Linked DNA regions of Homo sapiens: all the other regions are linked to region 2. The links come from fine-mapping of genetic effects on gene expression. A gene starts in region 2. Each other region holds a variant in brackets. All regions are shown on one strand. Distances are from middle to middle.

Region 1 (7,702 bases), 38 kb after region 2:
TGGTGTTGGCGCCTGTAGTCCCAGCTCCTTGGGAGACTGAGGTGGGAGGATTGCCAGAGCCTGAGAGGTTGAGGTTGCCGTGAGGTGAGATCACATCACTGTACTCCAGACTGGGTAACACAGTAAGACCCTGAAAAAAAAAAGAAAGAAAGAAAAAAGAAAGGGAGGGAGGGAAGAAGGAAGGAAGGAGGGAGTGAAGGAAGGAGAAGAAGGAAGGGAAGGGGAGGGGAAGGGGAAGAAAGGAAGGAAGGGAGGGAGGAAGGGAGGGAGGGAGGGAGGGAAGGAAAAGAGGGCACATTATACAACCTCTTAGGCCCAGCAAGGTGTAGCTCCCCAGGGGTTCTTCTCTGGGAGCATCAGTGTTGCACATCCCTGTGGATCCGCATCTCTTGCAAGACATCAGGCACCAGGAAGGGGCAGGCAGGAGGATGAGTGCCTCTCACTCCCAGATGGCAGACAAGGGTGCTTCAGAGGAAGGTGGGGTCCAGAATATGCCCATTCTCAGCCTGAAGCTATTGGCAGACACCTTTCTCTCAGGCCCACGGATGTGAGCTCTGAAGCCAGGACTTGGGATGGAGAGTTCCAATCGTGGCTGAGAAAGGACATGTGTGTCCTCATGAACACACCACACAGAAGTCACACACTAGGAACATGTGCCATGTGGGAATATGAGCATGTCAGTAACACACACATGTTTAGACTTCAGGCTGATTTAGATGAATCCGTTTTCCCAAACTCTTTGATTAGAGATTTTGCATTTATATTTAAAATTATTGTGTCCAGTGTTTTCATATCTGAAAGCCATGGCAGAGCTGTCCTTCCTTTCCCACGTTGGAGGAAGCGGATCCAGGGAGGCTCGGTGACTTGAGTGGGCAGGGCAGCCGCTCAGAGCACCCAGCCGAGGAAGTGGCGAAGCCCAGCCCCCGTCAGACCGAGAACCATGCTGCTGCAGGCTCCCTAATGGCCAGCCATGCAGCAGGTGGCATTTGAATGTTATTTCCCCTGTCTATTCCATGCTCCACTAGAAGCGGGGCCCTTTTTACTACCCCCATTTTGTAGACAAGGAAACTAAGATTCAGGGGGTCTGAGTATTTCTCCCAGAGCTGCAGTTCATGAGCACAGAGTAGCTTTTAAACCCGACGCATCCGAAAACCACACTCAAGCCTTCTCCCCTTCCCCTAATTCTGGAAGACCTCACCACCACCACAGCCCTCAGCAAACCCTGGCGATTGCATAACCTCAGGCCCAAGCTGCCAGAAGCCAATGCCACCTGTTTTGGCTGTGGGTATAAAAATTAATAAAATATCAGCTGATAAAATTGGTAATACCCAAACTGATGTTCAATCCAAACATCTGTGCTTTAAAAACTCCATCATTGAAATGCATTCCAAAGGTCCCATTAGGTTGGAAATAACTGGAATCTCAGTGCAGGCACTGCAGCTCCCCTGGTAAAAATCCCTCGTGTGTAAACGCATTTCCAGTTAACACACAGAAGCTTCCCTGGTTAAAATCCCTGGTGTGTAAACGCATTTCCAGTTAACACACAGAAATAAGTTATCAGCTCACTTAGCCTGTTGCGGGAAAAGCATTCACATGAGTCTCAAAGAACAGCCTGAGACCGTCTCGGGATTCGTGTGCCACACCCCGAGCAGCGGCTGCTGGTCAGCAAACAAGGGCTGAGACAGACAAAGGCAGGGATAGCGCCTGATCTGGGACAGACAGACAAAGGCAGGGACCGCGCCTGATCTGGGACAGACAGACAAAGGCAGGGACTGCGCCTGATCTGGGGCACTCTGTGTCTGGCACCACACACATCGCGAACGTTCTGTCTGATGGCCACAGGGGCGGTCCCCAGGGTCTGAACCATCGTGTGGCCCTGTGGGCAGCATCTCCCTGCCTTCCCCATCCTCCTTGTACCCTGAGAAGGGCAATCGCCCAGGACCCCCCACTCTGGCTCTCCCTCGGGCAAGACAGGCTGCACGACCTGGGGCCCTGGTGGTGCCGGCGGGGACCATGACCAGCCTGCAGATTGGGGGGACAGCCTTGTCTTGTCCCACACACCAGGAAACCAGAGAGCACAGAGTCCCCGGGGCCCTGCCAGTGGGGTGCTGGTGCATCCGGGGTTCCGCAAAGCATCGCCTCTCCCAGCAGCCGTCTGTGCTGTCACGGTCCTTGAATGACACCTGTCATGACGCAGCTTTGCTGTCTCTCTCTCCTATCTTAATGGTTCACTTTTAAGTTTGTTTCAAAAAAACTAGCTCCGACAACTCCCACGCCCCTTTGCCCAGGATCAGCAGCCGTTAATATTTTCCCTCATCTCTCACTGCACACACTCGTGCATTCGCACGCACACCCTCGCACATATGAGCACGCACACACAATTGTTTCTGAAACATTTGAGAATAACCTGCCGACCCTATATCCTCTCACCATAAATATTTCAGATGAAATTCCTCAGAAAAGACAGGCTCTTCTGTAACCACTGTTTGCTTATTCAAAATCGGAATTTAACCTTCAATAACGCTATTATCCAACATAACAGCATCCTGTTGCAATATAATATACTATATTGTGTTTTTATTATGTGTTAGAAATTGTGCCTACTGCTTCATCGGTTTCCTTTATAATCTATATGTTTGTAGCACAAATTGGTGACAGAAGCTCACTAACCCGATACCCTGTATGTCCCACAGGTACTGAGGGACCCTAGGCAGTTGCTGTAATTAGGCGGCAGGCAAGCATCCCTGGAACCCTCTGCTGACTTACTCATGTCTCAGGCCTGGGAGAGCATCCAGCGCTTATGGCCTCAGTCAGCCTGGGATGGACAGTGTCCCCATTATCAGTCACAGCCGGCCGACTAGACATCCCTTCGTTGGTCACTGCCGGTTTACCAGACGCCCCTTTGTGGGTCCCAGCTAAGTCAGTCACATATAAGATCTTATGTAGGTCACAAAAAGATGTTCAGGTCAAGGCCTTGGGGTATCCTAGCCCAAAAGTCCACATCGACCATTAGCCAGATTTATTTCCAGGAAATACAGATACTCAGGTTCTCCAGCTGATTCATTAGTACAGTCTGAGCTATTCCCCACCTAGTTACAAAAAATCAACAGGGAGCAGTTAGCAAACACTTGTTCTCGGCTTTACTAGATAGACGGTGACCGTTGCAATGATGCTCAGAAGCTGCTGGGGAGGGGATTGGCCAGATCAGCTCTGCCGCCGCCTGGGGGCCACTCTCGGCCACCCCACGGGATCCCAGCCGGGCCCCTGGCCTTCCAGGATTTTTAGAAAATACTCATCCCTTGGGGTTAGATTTTCTTTTTCATAAATCTAATATTAGATTCTTTAGTAATCTCTCCTCAGCCTTTGGGCTAAGATCAAGTATAGATTTATTTGTAAAATGTTAGGAGCCTCAAATTAAAGGGATCTGTGTTATTTAAAACCAATTTTAAAAAAACTACTAAGGAGGCGAGCTTGCTTCTCTCTCTCTCTCTTTTTTTTTTTTTTTTTTTTTGAGATGGAGTCTCACTCTGTCACCCAGGCTGGAGTGAAGTGGCACGATCTCAGCTCACTGCAACCTCTGCTTCCTGGGTTCAAGTGATTCTCCTGCCTTAGCCTCCTGAGTAGCTGGGACTACAGGTACACACCACTGTGCCCAGCTAATTTTTGTGTTTTTAGTAGAGTTGCGGTTTCACCCTGTTGGCCAGACTGGCCTCGAACTCCTGACCTCGTGATCCGCCTGCCTCGGCCTCCCAAAGTGCTGGGATTACAGGCATGAGCCACCGCACCCAGCCCTTCTCTTTTTATAACACTAATTCGGTGGACCCTGCCTGGTCGCCTGGAGCCGGCCACTGAGCCCACGCCTGGCTGGCCTCTGGGCAGAACATTTCCTGTCATCAGTAGAGCAGCTGGGCCATGGAGGCCACTTATTCAATGCCTTTGGTTAAACCCTTTCCAGGTCCACACTCTGCTTGGGGACCACATCGCGGGCAGGCGTTTCTCACCCTGCCCCACCCGGACACGGGCAGGTCCGCGTCTCCAGAAGGGCTCTCGTCCCTCTAGGCTGACCAGCAAGAACCCCAGGAGCCCAAAGGTGCAGCCCCAGTGTCTCTGTCCATGAGCTGTGGAAGGGACTCTGCCACCGCAGCTGCCAAACGGCCCCTCCCCTCTCCTCACCTGCCCCAGGGGGTTGCTGGGCGCTGGCTACCTAGGGAGGTGTCGCCCTCCCTGATCTTCATGGCTTCAGGGGAAAATGGGCACAGAACAAGCAGCCATAAAAACAGAAGAGGCTGAGCTGGGCATGGTGGCTCATGCCTGTAATCCCAGCACTTTGGGAGGCTGAGGGGCATGGATCATGAGGTCAGGAGTTCGAAACCAGCCTAGCCAAC[A/G]TGGTGAAACCTCATCTCTAAAAAAATACAAAAATTAGCTGGGCGTGGTGGCGGGCCCCTGTAATCCCAGCTACTTGGGAGGCTGAGGCAGGAGAATGGCTTGAACCCGGGAGGCGGAGCTTGCAGTGAGCCGAGATCACGCCATTGCACTCCAGCCTGAGTGACAGAGAAAGACTCCATCTAAAAAAAAAAAAAAACAGAAAACAGAAGACCCCTGCTCAGCACACTCAGGGAGATGTGCAGAGGCACGTGGCCCTGCCCCTGGAAGAGGAGCATTGGCACCACAGCGACAAGAGCAGTTCCACAGGCACAGATGGAGCCACAGCCAGGATGTGTGCCCCCAGACAGGCCTGTAGTGCCCTGAGAGCATATCGGGGAGGCCGGGACTGAGCTGTAGAGGGGAGGGAAGCCGGGGGCTGAGCCGCAGAGGGCAGGGAGGCTGGGGACTGAGGGAGGGAGGGTGGGGGCCAATCTGCCAAGGGGAGGAAGGGGGGGCGGCTCCAGGCTCATCCGCAGAGGGGCAGGAAATGGCAGTGCAGGCCTCTGGTGTTGATGGAGGCCCAGGACATGTTTTCTAAGCGCTGTTGGCCGAGGGCATCCAAGTGTCCCTGTCAGAAACATGTGGAGGCTGGCACAGGGATGTGTGTGACATGGCTGAGGCTGGTCCGTGTTCTGAGCAGGCTCCTGGAACAGCCAGACAGTTGCAGGCCCAGCTGCCACGTGAAACCGGCCCTGCCCTTCTCTCAGAGGAGGAAACTGCGGCTGAGGGTGTTCCCTGCCGCAGGGCCAGGCTCGGGTGAGCCCAGCACAGCCACTGACTGGGCAGAACAGTGACCTCCAGGCCCTGCTGGCCAGAAAGTCCCCAGCAAAGAACCTGCCAACAGGGGCTGCTGTCCATATCATGGTGGGCCCGGGTGTGTCTCCTGCGCTGTGATGGCCTCTAGTCTCATTGTATTTTCAAACGACCTCTCTGGCTGGCCAGAGCCACCAACAACTAAATTAGGAAAGCCGGGCACCCTGCTGTTTATATTGGCCCCTGGGAGGAAGACATTCCATTCCCTGTGGGTTCTGCAGCTTGTCCAAGTGCTGAGGGGACGCTGAGGGAGGCCCGGTCTCGCCCCGCACTGCTGGGCGGGCAGCGGTCACACAGGGCAGCCCAGACTCCGCCAGCGCAGCTCTGACCGGGGGCCTTTTCAGGAGGCTTTGAGGGGTGGGGCTGACGGCCCAAGGGGCAGCACTGGCTCCAGCGCATGAGGACGCGTTCACTCAGCAGCAAGGTGTGCAGCAGGGGTGGGAAAGGGCGAGAGGCCCACCTTCACAGCAAGTGAAGGCCCCGATCACAGGGCGCCTCGGGAGACACGCAGAGCCCCACGCGGGAGTCGCCGAAAGTCCTGGGCCCCCCTCTCAGTCCATGACTTGGGGGCGTTCCTGGCGTCCACGCTGTTCCCCTTTGTGGGGACATAGAGGTCTGTGTGGGTCACCGTGGGGCTCACAGAGCTGGGCCTCTGGGAAAGGCTCCCTGAGGTGGGGGCATCTGAGCCGGGTTGTGAAGGATGAATAGGAGCTCGTCAGGGAGGCAGCGAGGCTGTTCCAGGCTGAAGGGCACAGCGAGGTTGGGCGTGGAGTGGACAAACAGGGTGGAGGCTGGAGCTGGCAGAAAAGGGGGTGGCCAGGAGAGAAACAGGGTTGTGCAGTGGGTGAACCGAGTTCTGCGAGGCGCTGTTGGCGGTGGGTGAACCGAGCTCTGCGAGGAGCTGTTGGCGGTGGGTGAACCGAGCTCTGCGGGGCGCTGTTGGCGGTGGGTGAACCGAGCTCTGCGGGGCGCTGTTGGCGGTGGGTGAACCGAGCTCTGCGGGGCGCTGTTGGCGGTGGGTGAACCGAGCTCTGCGGGGCGCTGTTGGCGGTGGGTGAACCGAGCTCTGCGGGGCACTGTTGGCGGTGGGTGAACCGAGTTCTGCGGGGTGCTGTTGGCGGTGGGTGAACCGAGCTCTGCGGGGCGCTGTTGGCGGTGGGTGAACCGAGCTCTGCGGGGCGCTGTTGGCGGTGGGTGAACCGAGTTCTGCGGGGTGCTGTTGGCGGTGGGTGAACCGAGTTCTGCGGGGCGCTGTTGGCGGTGGGTGAACCGAGCTCCGCGGGGCACTGTTGGCGGTGGGTGAACTGAGCCTCCGGGGCACTGTTGGCGGTGGGTGAACCGAGCCTCCACGGGGGCTGTTCGCCACCCACGGGTCTTCTGCCAGCCCGCCCGGCTGTGCCCAACGCTGCTCTGGACTCGGGAAAGTAGAGACCAGAACCAACAGGGGTCCCGCCCATGCAGGGGCTCTGCTCTAGTGGGGAGCTGGGCAGAAACAGGGGTGACTTGTTGAAAAGTGCACTCGGATCTTAGAAAATTATAGAGCTGTGGCTGGGCGCGGTGGCTCACGCCTGTCATCCCAGCACTTTGGGAGGCCGAGGCAGGCGGATCACGAGGTCAGGAGATCGAGACCATCCTGGCTAACATGGTGAAACCCCGTCTCTACTAAAAAATACAAAAAATTAGCCGGGCGTGGTGGCGGGCGCCTGTAGTCCCAGCTACTCGGGAGGCTGAGGCAGGAGAATGCTGTGAACCTGGGAGGCGGAGCTTGCAGTGAGTCGAGATCGCGCCACTGCAGTCCAGCCTGGGCGACAGAGCAAGACTCCGTCCCAAAAAAAAAGCAAATTATAGTGCTGTGACAGTAGTCACCCGGGATGTGCCAGCAGCAGCAGCACACGCTGAGCTGGGGGCTCCCAGAATCCCCCAACCAGTGAAACCCAGAGCACAGAACATGCTGAGCCGGGAGTAGACCCCGGAAGAAGGAACCACCCGCAGGTTCAAGGAACCCAAAGACAGCAGCACCTCTGGGGCTACCACGAGGGGCGGGGACCAGAGAGGGTGAGCGCAATAGTGGGCGGTGGGCGCAGGACTTTGTGACGAGAAGGGGCAGCCCAGGGGAATGGCAGGACAGCAGGGAGCAGGGGAGTGGCCAGGCCAGACCCAGGGAGGAACTTGGTTAATGATGATTGCAAAACACAAAGGCTCTGTGAAGGGGGCTGTGGAAACCCCTCTCGCTCCCGCCAAGGGCGTCATCCTGAACCGCGGACGCCTCCGACAGCCACAGGTCCATGGCTGAGGACACCTCAGCAAGGCGGGGCTCACCCCAAAGAGGACTTTGTAGCTCTGGCCGAATCCCCTAATCCTCAGCCAATAAACCCAGAAGAGCATCCTGATCTCTGTGAGTGAAAACGTGTCTCAGATGATCACGCTGCGGGGTGAAAGCCGGCTGTGACAGCTGAAGAGCTGG
Region 2 (7,702 bases):
GCATGTGTCCTCTGCAGGGCGCTGCGTTTTTATACACGTCAAAGCTGTTAAGAATGTGCCCTAAGGGAGAGGATCTTGTCGTAGAGTCTAATGTTTTTTAAAATTGGTGCCAGCAATTCACGATTTATATTTTTTGAATTACCAAATATCTAGATTTACCAGCTCTATTTTTGTTTTCATTTTCTCTAGACATTCATCTGAAAATCATTTTATGGTTCTCAATCCCCATGTAGCTTTGCATAGCAACGGCACACGTGGCACGATTCCAGCAGAGTTTATCTCACACCGTTTATATATCACTGGGCCTCTCTTACTTAAATATTATTTGACCTGCCTGAGAAGCTTCATAAAGTATGTTTTTTTAAAATATATTTTAATTACATTTAAAAAGACATTTTTCCATGAAAAACATTTATTTTATGAGTGATGAATTATAGATTTTAAAATCAAGGCCGGGCGTGGTGGCTCACACCTGTAATCCCAGCATTTTGGGAGGCCGAGGCAGGTGGATCACCTGAGGTCAGGAGTTTGAGACCAGCCTGGCCAACATGGTGAAACCCTGTCTCTACTAAAAATACAAAAATTAGCCGGGCATGGTGGCACATGCCTGTAATCCCAGCTACTCAGGAGGCTGAGGCAGGAGATTCGCTTGAACTCAGGAGACGGAGGTTACAGTGAGTCGAGATCGCGCCACTGCACTCCAGCCTGGACGACAGAGTGAGATTCTGTCTCAAAATAAATACATACATACATACAATAAAACCGAATGAGCTGGTTCTTTCCATCCTCTTGTGGTACCCGTAGTGCCCAGCATCCAGACCTTTGTGCCCCTGTGCACATTTGGAAGCTAAAATGTACATCGTTGTCTGAAAAAACCCAACCCCAAAACCTTCATCTGATTGGTGAGCTGAAGTCTGTCCTTGCACCATGTTATCATCTGTTTCTCGTGTCCGCCTGGTTGAGGAGGACCCACGAGTGCTGCCGAGGTGTGGAGGGCTGGTATTGAGTTGTGGACATCACTGTTGACCCTACCTCACGTGCCGAGACTCTCATGTCACAGGCGTGCCTTGCTGCCCCCCTGCAGCACTGTGCAGGACGTGGACCAGCTGGAGCTGCTGCCCAGCACAGAGGAGAGTCGCCGCAGATGACCTAGCTGCGGTGTGAGAGAGCATGGCCCAGACAAGCAGCTGGGTTGGCTTCTGAGAACAGGACTTACCCTGGGCTTCAGGAACATCTGATGGCTGAGGTTAGTGTGCTTGGAGGCTGCAGGACGAACTGTCGATGTTTCTTAGCAGAGATGGTCACAGAGGGCAGCAGGGACAGGACTGGAAGGGACCTGCAGCCTGCAGACCCCGCCTGGCCCCCGCTGGCTTCTGGCTGGTCCAGTGATGGGCAAGTGACAGACCTTCCCCAGGCTCTGCTTCCAGAACTCTAATGGGAAACTGGGCCTGTCTACCTTTAGAAGTCTTCGATTCTCAGAGAGCATTTGTCTAATACAATAAAAACTGGCATTAATACAAACCTCAAAAACGTGAGCGTATCTTCCAGGCTTCATGGATTCTTGACATGTAATTGTTTTGTTCAGAAAAGTTTATAGAATTCACATAATTCTGTATAAACTATGGAGATCCACAGTACTTTTTTGTTTTTGAGATTTAAAGTTCTAAGGGATTGTCAATAGATATCAAAATATTAATCATTGGACAAAGGCTTTTCCAAAAATTGTGGGTTTTTTTCTTCTGTTGTATCCATTTGAGTCCTGCATGCTGTGAAATGCTGAGAACAGAAGCATTAAATTGGTTTTTCTCGGGCGTGGTTTCCTTTCGATTCTCCTCAGCTGCAGGGATGTCTGCCTATAGGTGTCAGCATCCACGTCATTGTCCCAGGATGAGAGAACAGCCCCCAGCTAGCAACCAGCGGGCAAGCCCCTGCCCCCGTGTGTGGCCCGCCAGCCCTGGCCAGGTAACCAGGTCCTCAGGTACCTTCTGTCATTGCGTTGCCTCTCAGCGGTGCACCGTGCACCTGATGGGGTGGCTCATGTGAGGAATGAGAGATCTCACAATAGGCAGGATTTACGGGAGTGTGTCGGGGCAGGAGGTCATGTGTGCCAGCACAAACTGCTGGAAACCGTCCCTTATCGGAGGCAAACGGCCAAGCACGGGGGTCTGAGGATCATGTGCTACCTGCCGATTCACGGTGCACCTGCCAGCGTTCCGGAATCAACAACGCCAGCTCCTCTCAGTGACATTGTACATGTCATTGTGTTATTTTCGCTTGAAGTTTATATCCATTTTAGACCTCAGGCTTCTTGGGGCCAAGAATAAACTTTCTTCTGATCCTTGTTGCTGTGTCCACAGTTTCAGGTACAAAGTAGGGGCTCTGCAAATATTTGTTGGATAAACGAGCTAACCTTATCCCGTCCTGTTTGCTGAGGGAGCCAGCTAGTGCTCTTGGCAAAGGTTTCCGCCGCCTGCGAACTGAAGCGCTCAGCGAGCGGGCTGTGTTAATCCCCTCAGCAGCACACGCTTCGGCCCCACAGTGCAGTTGTGCCTAAAACAGGTGAGAGTTTGAACGAAGGGCCGCCCCTCCTGTCTGTCTTGTTTGGATAGGGACCCTGCGTGCATGCTGTTTTTTGTTTTGGAGTTTTGTTTGTTTGTTTGTTTGTTTCTGAGACAGAGTTTTGCTCTTGTTGCCCAGGCTGGAGTGCAATGGCGTGATCTCGGCTCACTGCAACCTCTGCCTCCTAGGTTCAAGTGATCCTCCTATCTCAGCCTCCCAAGTAGCTGGGATTACAGGTGCCCACCACCATGCCCGGCTAATTTTTGTATTTTTAGTAGAGACGGGGTTTCATCATATTGGTCAGGCTGGCCTCAAAATCCTGAGCTCAGGGGATCCGCCCGCCTCGGCCTCCCAAAGTGCTGGGATTACAGCCATGAGCCACCGCGCCCGGCCTGCATGCTGGTTTTGAAGTTTGTTTCTGAATCTCAGGATCATGCTAGCTGGCATGACTGTGCTGATGGCTGCCTCCACCAGCAGACAGTGGAGGGTGAGGTGAACTCACTGCTTGAGATCCTCCGTTTTAACAAGTGCTGATATAACGCCAGGCGGTTAAATGCTTCCTACTGTCTCGCTGTACACTACGAGAGTTTTTATCAGACGCATTTCTTCAGTCCAGGTGTAACTCTTTGCTTCCCCTGGGTCTGATGGAAACCAGGCCCCGAGGAAGGAGACGGGAGAGACACAGCCCTGCTGGGCTCCCGGCCTCTGCGGAGAACTGTCCTGGGGTGGGGTCGGGAGATGGACTGTTTTCCTAATTTATTTCAAACCAGGAACCCTGGCTGTGTGCATTCTGCCTCACCCCCCGTCTCCATATTTTTTAATATTCTTTTCATGAGCTAGCAGGGATGATGTAAATACACTGAGCTGACCGAGGGCCGGATGGGAGGTTCTAGTGAAGCCTGCGGTTTGCTGACGACTTTCCCCCTCAGTGCAGTCCAATTATTTGGGAGCCGTTAAACACCGCATGCTGAGAAGACACCGTCATTGTTCACACAGGAGCTAGATAGACTTTGTTCCCTCTACACTGCATTTTTTAAAAGTTTTCTATCAAAAACACATTTCATAATCGAAAAGTTTTCTAAATGATAAAACCGCATGTCACAGATTAATCTCAACATTATGTTGAGTGAAGGAAGCCAGACACCGAAGGCCACACATTGTATTTGAAATGTCCAGGAAAGGCAGAACTGTAGAGACAGCAGATGGGTTGTTGCCCGAGGGGTGAGGGCACGCCCCGCAGCGGGCGGCAGTGACAGGCACGCCTGCACACATCTGCTCCCGCATCACCCCACGCCACACACGGGGAAGTGTGCGCACTCCTTCCAGGGACAGCGAGAGGAGCCCCTGCTCTGTCAACGCTCTGAATGTGCTGCGGCTGCCGGCAGAAGCTAGCAGGCTCCTCTGCTGAGGAGCTGGTGCCTGTCCAGACGCAGAAGAAAACTGACACCTCCCACGTGGGGGACAGAAAGGTCCTCTCATTGGTGCCACCTGCAGAGATAGACAAGGAGCGCCTGGCCATCAGAGGACGCTCCTGACAGTGACACAGTGACCACTATAAAAGTCAGGCGGGCTGAGGAGGAGACAAAGGCCAGGACGCTCCGCAGCTGTTGGGGAAGAGGAGCTGCCTCCTGGGATGGAGAAATTTAAGGCTGCGATGTTGCTGGGGAGCGTCGGCGATGCTCTTGGCTACAGAAATGTCTGCAAGGAGAACAGCACTGTAGGCATGAAGATCCAGGAGGAGCTGCAACGTTCCGGGGGCCTGGACCACCTCGTACTCTCGCCAGGAGAATGGCCCGTGAGTGACAACACCATCATGCACATCGCAACCGCCGAGGCCCTCACCACAGGTAGGCTGGGCCCACCGCGCTCCGGTGTGCGGGCTGGAGGGAACACTGGCTGCTCGAGTTCTCCCAGTAAGCCTCCGAGAGCTTTGAAGGCAGTGCGGTCCTTCAGCGGATGGTGTTACCTGATACCGCTGCTAAAAGTGGCAATTTAATCTGAGTGTCCCTCAAATTTGATATGCGGCAGATCACGTTTCTCCTGTGGTTTCTCTGAGGGTGACAGTATTACTTTACTTTGCAGTTATTAAGATTCAGTTTTTAAACGTGACTTTTCACTTGTATTTGTAAAGCGTTAACTAGGCCTAGCACCTTCTGTTTCTAATAGAGTTAAAGCCAGTGAAGCCTCTCTCGGCCGTGCTGGTGGGAGTAGGGTGAGGGCTCACTTCTCGCTGCAGAGATTAAGCCTTCTTGTTCTGAATTCATTACAAAGGGATGTAAAATAAGCCAGTTTGAAATGTGAACCCATTAATACTGTTTGGGGATTAGTTCTAAATTCCAATGAATTAAAGTTAGAATATCATCTCCCAAAATGGTTCAGCTTGGAGAGTTGCCCATACACAAATGTGTTCTAAGAAAATGACATAAACTTGATTGGACGAGATTGGAGACAAAGCTTCTTAAAATACCTTTAAGTAGCAAATTGATTTTAGGATCAAGCTTTTGCATGAATTTCAGGGAAATGGCAGGTGCACAGACATGCAGTCCAGCTTTCCTACGAGGCATTTGCTCTTCAAAACCCCGTGGGTGCTGTTTATCATGGCAGAATTAAAATCTGAGGGCTGCAGCTAAGTCAATGAAATCTCACTTATGCGTTCACTCCACCATTCTGTTCATCTGCCATGGACGTGCCCAGTTTAGTTCTGTGCTCACAGCAGAGGAATGCCATCGAGCCTGTGGCCGGTCCCTAAATAACGGGAGAGCTGAAGCGCCGGCGATAAGATAAGGCTCCCGGCTTGCTGGAGACGGGGAGGCGTCCGACTGTTCACAGCCTTGGCGTCCAGGAGCTCCTGCTTCTGGTTTTCCAGGCGGCCACTCGTGTGCCCTTAGGACCAGCAACCCCATGCTTGTGCCCCGCAGCCCAGAACAGGTGCACCCCACACACAGACACCTGTGGGACACAGCTCCGGCTTGTTTTCACCGTAGACGGCTGGAGCTCACTCTTGAGTTTGGCTTCCTCTGGGCGTCTGATGCCGTGTGTGCGCTCATACCAGCTCTGCATGTCCCATTTCTGGTAGCACTTGGTGGGCGTTTTGTAAATGGCAGCGTCCATGGCTGTGGGTCTGGTCCTGCCAGGCCCGCAGGGAGGGCAGCGGCACAGGACACTCCAAAAGTGCACCGACGGAGATCGGCCCAACAGGACACGAAATTCACACAGTTAAAAGGGTTACGGACGTTTAGGGCACTGTTTTTTGTTTGTTTTTTGAGACGGAGTCTTTCTCCATCGCCCAGGCTGGAGTGCAGTGGCGTGATCTCAGCTCACTGCAACCTCCACCTCCCAGGTTCAAGTGATTCTCCTGCCTCAGCCTCCTGAGTAGCTGGGGCTACAGGTGCCCACCACCACGCCCGGCTGATTTTTGTATTTTTAGTAGAGACGGGGTTTCACCACGTTGTCCAGGCTGGTCTCGAACTCCTGACCTCAAGTGATCCACCCACCTCAGCTTCCCAAAGTGCTGGGATGACAGGCGTGAGCCACCATGGGGCGCTATTCTTAAGGAGGAAGTAAGTTTGCTCTAAGCTCTCAGGGTCCTCAGCTGTGGACTGGAAGGGAGGGTTCACTGTGCTGCTGCAGCGTCTAGTTTGTGGGTCATGAGAAAATACGCATCCAAGATCACCCCTGGAATTGCTTACTGTGGGCGGCAAGCCACCCAGGCACTGAGGCAAGAGACAGAGGACACGAGCTGTTCCAGTATAATAAAACAAGAATAGTTATACCAGATATAGATCTTAGATATGATTATATATGAATATCATTAATCATTAGTTTGTAGCAATTACTTTTTATTCCAATATTATGATAATCCTCGCTCTATAATCATAGCCTAGGAAAAACCAGGCCATACAGAGATAGGAGCTGAGGGGACATAGTGAGGTGTGACCAGAAGACAAGAGTGCGAGCCTTCTGTTATGCCCGGACAGGGCCACCAGATGGCTCCTTGGTCTAGCTGTGACGCCAGCGTCTGGGAAGACGCCCGTTACCAGGCGGATCGTGGTCCAGCAGTAGCAAAAGGTGGCAAGGAACAACACCTGCTACTTAGCAGACCAGGAAGGGGGGGGGGGTCTCCCTTTCCCCAGGGGAGTTTAGAGAAGACTGCTCTTCCACCTCTTGTGGAGGGCCTGACATGAGTCAGGCTCGCCCGCAGTTATCCGGAGGCCTAACCGTCTCCCTGTGATGCTGTGCTTCAGTGGTCACACTCCTAGTCTGCCTTCATGTTCCATCCTGTACACCTGGCTCTGCCTTCTAGATAGCAGTAGTAAATTAGTGAAAAATTAGTACTATCAGTACTAATAGTCCCTGATATGCAGAAATAATGGCATAAGCTGTCTTTCTCTCTGTCTCCTCTCCCTCTCTGCCTCGGCTGCCAGGCAGGGAAGGGCCCCCTGTCCAGTGGACACGTGACCCACATGACCTTACCTACCATTGGAGGTGACTCGCATTCTTTACCCTGCCCCTTCTGCCTTGTATCCAATAAATAACAGTGCAGCCAGACATTCGGGGCCACTACCGGTCTCCGTGCATTGGTAGTAGTGGTCCCCCGGGCCCAGCTGCCTTTTCTCTTATCTCTTGTCTTGTGTCTTTATTTCTACACTCTCTCGTCACTGCACACAGGGAGAGACCCACCGACCCTGTGGGGCTGGTCCCTACAGCTTACCCCTCTAGAAACCAAAGCAAGCAGATTTTTTTCAACTCACTAAAAATCAAAGTCGAAATTTCACTTAAGTTTATCTTTGTTCTTTAAATAACAAATTGTAGCCTATGGAAGGGGGTCTTTAAGCTGTGTTAACAATGGTGAGGGCTGGGCACAGTGGCTCACGTCTGCAATCCCAGCATTGTGGGAGGCCACGGTGGGCAGATTGCCTGAGCCCAGGAGTTCTAGATCAGCCTAGGAAACATAGCAAGACTCCATCTCTACAAAACGACAATGGTGAGTGCTGACTCCACAGCACTTCTGTACCAGGCATTGTTCCAGCTGCTTCACGCATGTTATCCTCCACACATGCTCCTCACATCACCGTGGAGGCTGATTTTATCACAATCTTACAGGAGAAAAAATTGACATACAGAGAGGTTCAGGCGCTTGCCC
Region 3 (7,702 bases), 49 kb after region 2:
CTGCAACCCGCTCCTCCCCTCCTTTCAGTAGCCCCATCTTTCCCTCCTCTCTGCAGCCCCCTCCTCCCTTCCTCTCTGCAGCCCCCTCCTCCCCTGCTCCTGGTGGGCACTGCCCACTGCAGTGCTGGTTCCTGCCCAGGAGCTTGTGAGGAAACTCTTTCTGCCTTCTCCGCCCACCCCAAGCCTGAGCGGTTTGCTGAATCTTCAGTCTCTGCTGTAGGGACCCAGGTCCCTGGGATCATGGCAGAATTTAAATATGCTGTTAATTTTATCTTTCATACTTAAAGGTAGAGACATACACAGTCCACACAGAGAATAGACACTTCTTTATATGTGCTTTTTTACCTACTGTACAAGCAAAGTATGTTTGTTAAAATTTTCTTTTAATATGTTGCATATGCAAAGTGGTTTTCCAAACGCTTTCACTAAACTGTTCAATGTCAACTCCTCAATGCCCTTAGGAGGAGCGTGTGTCAGAAGTTCCTGCCATTTAACAGGAAACAGTGACCCAGAAAAGCTTTGGCATCCCTGCCAACCCCGAATTAACAGCAGAGACAGCCCAGAAGCCACAGCTCCTGGCTCCTAATCTCTTTTTCTCCCTACCAGACTTTTGGGGCCCCTGAAAAGGTGGGATTGCCCCATGATAAATGTTCTATAGAGTCATCTTGGAGAAAAATGATGATGAAGTAGGTGATGATTCCTTTTTCTCTGCAGCCGGAAGAGCAGCAAGACCTGCAGTGACGTCATGTCTGTGGACGCCCAAACCCTGAAGAAGAAGATGGGCAAGCTGGCCTGTGACCCGGCCGCCCACTCCATCCTCAGCAGCCTGCTGCTCTACGTCACGGGCCGCGCAGACCGGCCCCCGGGGACAGAGGCCGGGGGGAGCAGGCCCAGCCACCAGCCCCAGACCCAGGAGGCCACCCAGCGGCCCACGCGCTTCCAGCTCCTGCAGGCCAAGTTCCTGGGCACTGGCCGGGAGCGCTACCTCAAGAGGACCAGGGAGGTGGGCCGGCTGATCTCCAAGGACAAGCAGGGGCCGGGTGGGGGCCTCGTGGGTGCCACCATCAACAAGCTCCTGGAGAAGACCAAGGAGCCGGCCCCAAAGCCCTGCCTCAGCGAGAAGCCCCGCTGGGGCCACCCGGCCGGGAAGAGCACCGTGAAAAACATCCTGAAGATATTCTTGGCCGCCGAGGAGAAGGAGGCGAAGGAGAAAGAAGCACGCGAGAAGCCCCCTGTGGAGCGGCCCAAAGCCGCCAGGGGCCTCTTGCCGAAGATCATGGGCAAGAGCTCGGTGCTGTCCAAGCTGCGGGAGAAGTTCGAGCAGAACAGCTGCCTGTGCTCCGAGGCCAGTGCGCTGAGGCTGCACACGCAGGAGCGGAAGAAGAGGAACCTGCAGAGGAAGAGGATGCACCGGCCGGAGGTGCGCGTGCTGCACACGGCCACCATGGCCAGCACCTGCGTCAAGATGCCCCCTGCCCGCTTTCTGGCCTGCACGGCTGAGCCCCTGCCGGCCCTCAGCATCGCCACCGTCGTCTGTGGCCCCAGGAGCTGGCTGTCCCACTGCACCAAAATCAGCCACTCGGAGGCAAGGCGTCCACCCAGAGGAGAAGCCAGCGTGCCCCCTAGTGCCAGGGAGACGGGGCCCAGTGGGAACAAAGCAGTGGGAAAGGGGCCCCTGGAGGAGGAGCCCCAAAGACAGCCAAGGCCCTCGAAGCCCGTGACACCCCAGGTGATGGCTCAGAGGGACGGCCACGCTGTCCCCTCGCTGGCCTTCTCTTGTGCTCCCTGCACAGGTGGAGTCCTTCCTGGCCTTGTGCCTGCATCATCCCCACTGGGACCGGCCAGCCCTTGGGGCACCGGATCAGCCGGAGGTGATGGGACTGCAGACCCCACCGCAGAGAGCACCGCAGGAGGCGTCCAGGAGGTGAGGGGAGCCAGGCTCACGTGGCCTCCTGGGCCCCCAGGCGAGTGTGCAGGGGAGGGCCCTGAAATCACCATGACTGTTTGCAGTTCAGAGGATGAAAGGGAAGGAGCAGGCTTCCCAGACCCAGGGAGAGACCCCCTCTTTGCCACCCAGAAGTATTTCCCAGAACAGAAGGTGCCGGAGCACATCCCACCCCTGAACGCTCCATCGGTCCAGGCTGCTCGGAGAACACAGCCTGCCACGGAGCCTCCACGGATAACTGTCCAAATTCCAGTTGTCCATGAAATGCCAGCCCCTCCCACCAGGCTGCAAAATATGTCAAGTGGTGAAAACAAACCTTGTATTTGTGGAGGAGAGAATGTGGTTGAAAATGCCCACACAGAATTTCCCACCGTGACTGAGAACAGAAGGGGTCACCGAGCCCCAGTGGAACTGAGCAAGCTTTCAGGGATGCAGGCGGGACTCAGCGCCTCTTCGCCGCAGGGGCCACGGGCAGCTCCGCGTCTGGCAGCAGCAAGAGGGGCTGTGGGCGCCGACCACAGTGTCCCAGAGACACTTCTGACACAGAGACTCCAGACAGATCCTGCTGGCGGGAAGGAAAACAAAGGCAGCTTTGAGAATTCACACGGTCCCAGGAATCCTGACGATATTTCAGGAGAGAGGACCTCTGAGCTCAGAGATGTGAAGCATCCGTTGCCGGAATCTAATGAAATATCAATGCAGAAGAAGGGCTCCGCAACAAATGATCCTGCAGCCTCACAAAACCTTCTGAGGGGAAACACCAGCCATGCCTCCAGCAGCCAGCAAGTGCCGTCCCCGACTGGGAGAAACCCAACAGGAGCCCCCACGTCACTGGCGGCATCATCCAAGGGGCGTACGGGGCCTGAGGGTGTCACCCCGATGGGCATGACAGTGCCCGGTGCGCTGGAGGAATGCAGAAGGCCGCTGCTAATAGAGTCTTCTCAGCCCCTGAAGGCTGCCGAGGAAATCACCAGCCATGATGTTCGCGAGAACCCACTGTCCTCATTAAATGAACCACCCAAACCAGGTATGAAAGCCTGTGGGGCGATGGCAGCTGCAGGGAGCGTTGCGAGCCGCGCCACGCCTGCACCAGCGCCAGGCAGCACCCAGAGCCCTGGAGACCGCACAGCGGGAGAGCCAGAGACGCTGGGCCAGTGGGGAAGCAGAGCCTTGTCCGAAAGCCACCCCAGAGGAGAGGCTCTCCCTCGAGACCCTCACAGCCACGGCCTCCTGGCCCCTGGGGGATCCTTGGAGCCCAAGAGTGGAGCAGCAGGGAGGAGCCTCCTGAGAGGCGTGGCCCTCGTCCAGCACCCAGAGGACATTGCGACCCTCGCCCGCCACCCGGAGGATGCTGCGGCCCTCGCCCGGCACCCAGAGGCGGCCCGATTATACATTTCAAACACATCAGCAGCCAGCAGACATACAGCAGCTGTAGGAGGCAGAAAGGATGTGGCTGTGGAAGGAAACCTTTTGGGTTTCAGCACAGAGTCTGGAATTCCTGCTTCTGATCATCCTAGGCCACAGGCAAGGAGCGTGGCAGAGTCCCCCAGCTATGGCCCTGGCCTCCCGCCGTCGCCTCCTGAGAACCCACAGGCAAAGGGCAGGGAGGGCGTCAGGTTTCCCCGTGGGGCGGAGCCTGACCATCTGCTTCCCGCAGTGCCTCCCGCGGAGGTGGACATGGGGTGGGTAGGTGGCACCCACCAGCGGGGCCCTCCCCATCTACAGGCACACCTGCCCCCTACTGCTGGTGACACACAGGCAAAGCTCCGGGCCAGTGTCCCCGAGCCTAGGACGCAG[G/T]CAGGTGAATCCCAGGAGCGTCCCCTGACACAGGCGGACCTGGGGAGGCAACAGAGTCACCAGGCACAGGAGGAGACCCCCCAGCCCGGGGATGCGGGGAAGAGGGTGGCGCCGTCGGGCTCGAAGGTTGTGCTGAACCCAGCAAAAGAGCCTCAGACATGGTGGGCACAGGATCTGGCCGGGGACAAAGGGATGGCCATTGGGGTTGGGGGCGCCTGCCAGCGCAGTGACCAAGGTCAGCAGCATCTGCAGGGACCCTGGGAGGAGCGGGGGCGGAGCACGGCGTGGGGAGAGGGCACCAGGGCTGCCAGGAACCCAGCTGTGCCTCCAGGGGAGCCCGAGGGGCCGGGAAGCCCGGCAGCCCAAGGACAGGCCCAGAAACAGGTTCAGGAATGGGACCGGGGACAGGTTCAGGGACACGCTCAAGAACAGGCCCAGTGGCAGACCCAGATAGAGGCCCAGGGGCAGGCACAGGAACAGGCTCAGGGTGGGACCCAGGGACACAGTCAGGGACAGGCCCAGAAACAGTTTCAGAATTGGGCCCAGGGACAGGCTCAGGGACACGCTCAAGAACAGGCCCAGTGGCAGACCCAGATAGAGGCCCAGGGGCAGGCACAGGAACCAGCTCAGGGTGGGGCCCAGGGACAGGTTCAGGGACAGGCCCAGAAATGGGCTCAGGGGCAGATTCAGGGACAGGCCCAGAAACAGGTTCAAGGAGAGGTTCAGAAATGGGCCCAGGAAGAGGCTCAGGGACAGGCCCAGTGGCAGACCCAGATAAAGGCCCAGAAATGGGCTCAGGAACAGACCCAGAAAGGGGCTCAGGAACGGGTTCAGGGTCAGGCCCAGAAAGGGGCTCAGGAACGGGCCCAGGAACAGGCTCAGGAGCAGACCCAGATAGAGGCTCAGGGTCAGGCCCAGAAGGGGGCTCAGGAACGGGCTCGGGAACAGGCCCAGAAAGGGGCTCAGGAACGGGCTCGGGAACAGGCCCAGAAAGGGGCTCAGGAACGGGCTCGGGAACAGGCCCAGAAAGGGGCTCAGGAGCGGGCTCGGGAACAGGCCCAGAAAGGGGCTCAGGAACGGGCTCGGGAACAGGCCCAGAAAGGGGCTCAGGAACGGGCTCGGGAACAGGCCCAGAAAGGGGCTCAGGAACGGGCTCAGGAACAGGGTCGGGAGCAGACCCACATAGAGGCTCAGGGTCAGGCCCAGAAAGGGGCTCAGGAATGGGCTCGGGATCGGGCTCGGGATCAGGGCTGGGAGCAGACCCAGATAGAGACTCAGAGGCAGACCCAGAAAGGGGCTCAGGAACGGGCTTGGGAACAGGGTCGGGAACAGGCCTTGACAAGTGGGATGGCGCCTCGGGCCTGGGAGCAGCCCATTAGTGGCATAGCTGAGGGAGTGGATGCTGCTGGCAGGAGTGGGGGGTCCAGAAGCCCAGCCCCCAGGGATGGTGGACAGTCAGGGGGCAGTGGCCTGGGGGAGCCCAGCGCCGGGTACCCACCCCCAGGAAGCCGCCCCCTCAGGGGCAAGAGCATTGCCACCTCTCCCCTGGGGCTGGGAAAGAGCCCAACTGAGCCCAAGCCTGAGGCTGGGGGCTGCGGGACTCCCCAGGCCCCGGCCCAGGAGGGGTCCCCAGACCACCCTGGGGCTGAGAGGGCCCTGCAGGACAGGATGGAGGCATCGGAGCCCGAGCGTCGCGGGAGGTCCAGGCACCTGGCCAAGTACAAAGCCCAGAGCTTCCGTGACCAGAGGGCCTTCGATTTGTCCTTCAGACCAATGAGCGTCAGGGCCAGCGACACGTCTGAGCTCCCAAAGTGAGGCCCCGAGTACACACCGTGGCTCGCCCAGCACTGTGACATCCGCCCATTGAGGGACTTCAGGCATTTTCCTGCCTCCAAATGCGTCTTGGAGCATCCCCTACAGAGACGCCTGTTTCCATAATTTTCTTTCCCTTCTTCACAAGCTGACCTTGGGAGGATTGAGCTACATGTGGGTCGGGTTCCTGTCACCCCACAGAGCCACGAGGCCATGGGGGTGGGAGGTGCGGGCCTGTGGCCTCACCAGGCCCTCGGGATTCTTTGTGTCTTCACTCGGGGGCGCCGGCTCACCCCTCTCTCACACAGCCTGCAGCGTGGAGCTCACACCTCCCGCAGTGGCACGGTGTGTGCGTCCCCTTCGATCTGCAGGATGCTGGCACTTTGGGACACCTCCCCAGCTCTCACAGGGCCACCTCCCACTGCTCCCTGCCCACACCCCACCATGCCCTGCTCTGACGTGGCCGCATGGCACCCACCATCCATGGGCCCAAAGTGATGCACACCGCCCCACCCCCATGACTCGAAAGAAAGGGCAGAGCTTCCTCCAGCCTCAGACGCCCAGGTGGGTGCCGGGTGCTGTGTGGCTGCTGGGCCATGTGGTGGTCACCAGAGGGTGTGGGGACGCTGGGATCCCAGGCCGAAACCAGCTCATCCGGAGGAAGAGGCCTCAGGAAATGCCCACGTTAAGTTCTGAGAAAGGGACAGTGCAGAGCCGTGGGAAGCCAGGATCCCAGGGAGGCTTCGTCTGGAAACTGGGTGCTGGGAGAACGAACGGGAGCCTGCCCGCCCTTCCCTGCAGTCCCTGTGGGTGGTGCCACTGGTGCCGGTGACCTGAGAGCCTCGCTGTCTGTCCTCCGTCCTCCCGAACAGCATAGAAGTGTTTCCTGCCCTGGCCCGAGACGGCCCACGACTCCGGCCCTGTTCAGGTACTGAGGTAATGCATGTTCAGGCTGGAATATTTGAATGCTGTCTAGAGGCACAAGAAGGAAATCAAAGCCACCTGTGGTCACATTGCCTCGAGATGGTTTTTGTTGCTACTCTGGACTATTTTTTAGGCTCTTCCTCCATGCACCTATTTTAAAGCACATTCTTCCCCATGATGGAGCCATGCACCTCCGTGTCGCGATCCATCGTCCCAGGCCACTCGGTGGCCTCTGAAACCCGGACCCGTGAGGCCACACGGCTGCCTGAGTGGCCCCGGAGCAGCTGGATTTTCAGCGTGAACCGATGCAGCCTGTCGCCCTACAGCCCCGCACCCTTGTTTTTGGTGGTGCCCTCCCTGTGGAAAGTTAATTCCTGCTTTTTGAAGGTGTCTTGGCATCTTCTGCCTTTGCTACTGAGCGGTTTCCTGAAACAGCCCTAAGCGTTCGCAAAGGCGCTTTGGTGCCTGCTGCGAGCACCTGTTTTCTGACTCGGATGTTCCTTTAGAGGAAGGTGTTTTCCAGTGTCGGCCCTGAGAGGGCGTTCAGCAGGCGCGTCCTACCCACGCGGGGCTGAGGTCTCTCCTTCCAGGGAAGGTCCATCCCGGCAGACGCCAGTGGCTTTGGCTCTGCAGCGCCAAGGAGGCGGCGTGGCGTCATGCTCCGGGGAGCGCACAGGTTTCCTTCCAGTCGAACAATTAACTTCAGATCCAGCAGGTTTGACCCACCCTCACCTGCTGGGACATGCGAGTGCTGGTGTCTGGAAGGAGGGCCGGGCTGTGCTGAGCTCTGGGGGGCCGGTCCCCACAGCTCCCCCGACAGGGCCCCCGGGGCCTCCTCTATAAATCAGGGGTCCGTGCTCCCAGCCCGCTTCGAGGGGTTTCTGCTTGGCGTGTGGGTTCTAAGTGCGAGCTGCTGTGTGTGGAGGCTCCTGAGCACCGGGTGCCCCTCGCGCGTGTGGGTCCCGGGGCAGCCCAGCTGCACACAGGATGGTCCGGGGGTGCGGGTGGGGGCAGAGCTGAGCATGGCGTGTACTTGGCCACAGAAGTCTTGCTGTGGTGCCGCTGGACCCCTGCTAGGAGGACAGGGTCCCCTCTCTCACGAAGCACACGGACCTCCAGAGTCCCTGCCCCTGCAGTCCTGGGAGCCTGCAGTTGGGGCTGGAGTTGGCCTCTCGGAGCCACCCAAACGGAGAGGCCCATGAGAGGGGAGCTCAGGGGTCCAGC

Direction of the effects. Positions count from the first base shown, and alleles are read on the strand shown. Sizes are in standard deviations (SD) of each study's normalised expression.
With allele G in place of A in region 1, the expression in sigmoid colon of the gene that starts at base 4,142 in region 2 is lower (small effect, 0.26 SD a copy in GTEx).
For the expression in testis of the gene that starts at base 4,142 in region 2, G is the low allele of the variant in region 3 and T is the other (moderate effect, 0.64 SD a copy in GTEx).

What was found. PIP is the estimated chance that this variant, and not a neighbour inherited with it, causes the effect. A credible set is the group of variants that fine-mapping cannot tell apart.
Region 1: its variant is the best candidate, but not a certain one, in a credible set for the expression of ADPRHL1 in sigmoid colon (GTEx, PIP 0.69).
Region 3: its variant is the best candidate, but not a certain one, in a credible set for the expression of ADPRHL1 in testis (GTEx, PIP 0.80).

The regions. Positions count from the first base shown.
Region 1 is chr13:113,411,560-113,419,261 of GRCh38, reverse strand. The region is part of intron 7 of ADPRHL1 (ADP-ribosylhydrolase like 1); the gene reads left to right. Among named protein-coding and RNA genes, the nearest start is that of ADPRHL1, 38 kb to the left of the region's middle. RefSeq lists enhancers at 412-1,412, 1,413-2,413, 7,652-7,702. The variant A/G (reference allele first, on the strand shown) is at 4,386.
Region 2 is chr13:113,449,928-113,457,629 of GRCh38, reverse strand. ADPRHL1 (ADP-ribosylhydrolase like 1) reads left to right here and starts at 4,142. Exons shown (of 8, transcript NM_001394807.1): 1 at 4,142-4,406. The coding sequence starts at 4,193. DCUN1D2 (defective in cullin neddylation 1 domain containing 2) reads left to right here. Exons shown (of 7, transcript NM_001014283.2): 7 at 1-1,811. RefSeq lists enhancers at 682-1,612, 5,609-6,110.
Region 3 is chr13:113,401,233-113,408,934 of GRCh38, reverse strand. ADPRHL1 (ADP-ribosylhydrolase like 1) reads left to right here. Exons shown (of 8, transcript NM_001394807.1): 8 at 715-7,702. The coding sequence ends at 5,557. Among named protein-coding and RNA genes, the nearest start is that of GRTP1, 41 kb to the right of the region's middle. RefSeq lists enhancers at 958-1,643, 2,761-3,555. The variant G/T (reference allele first, on the strand shown) is at 3,743.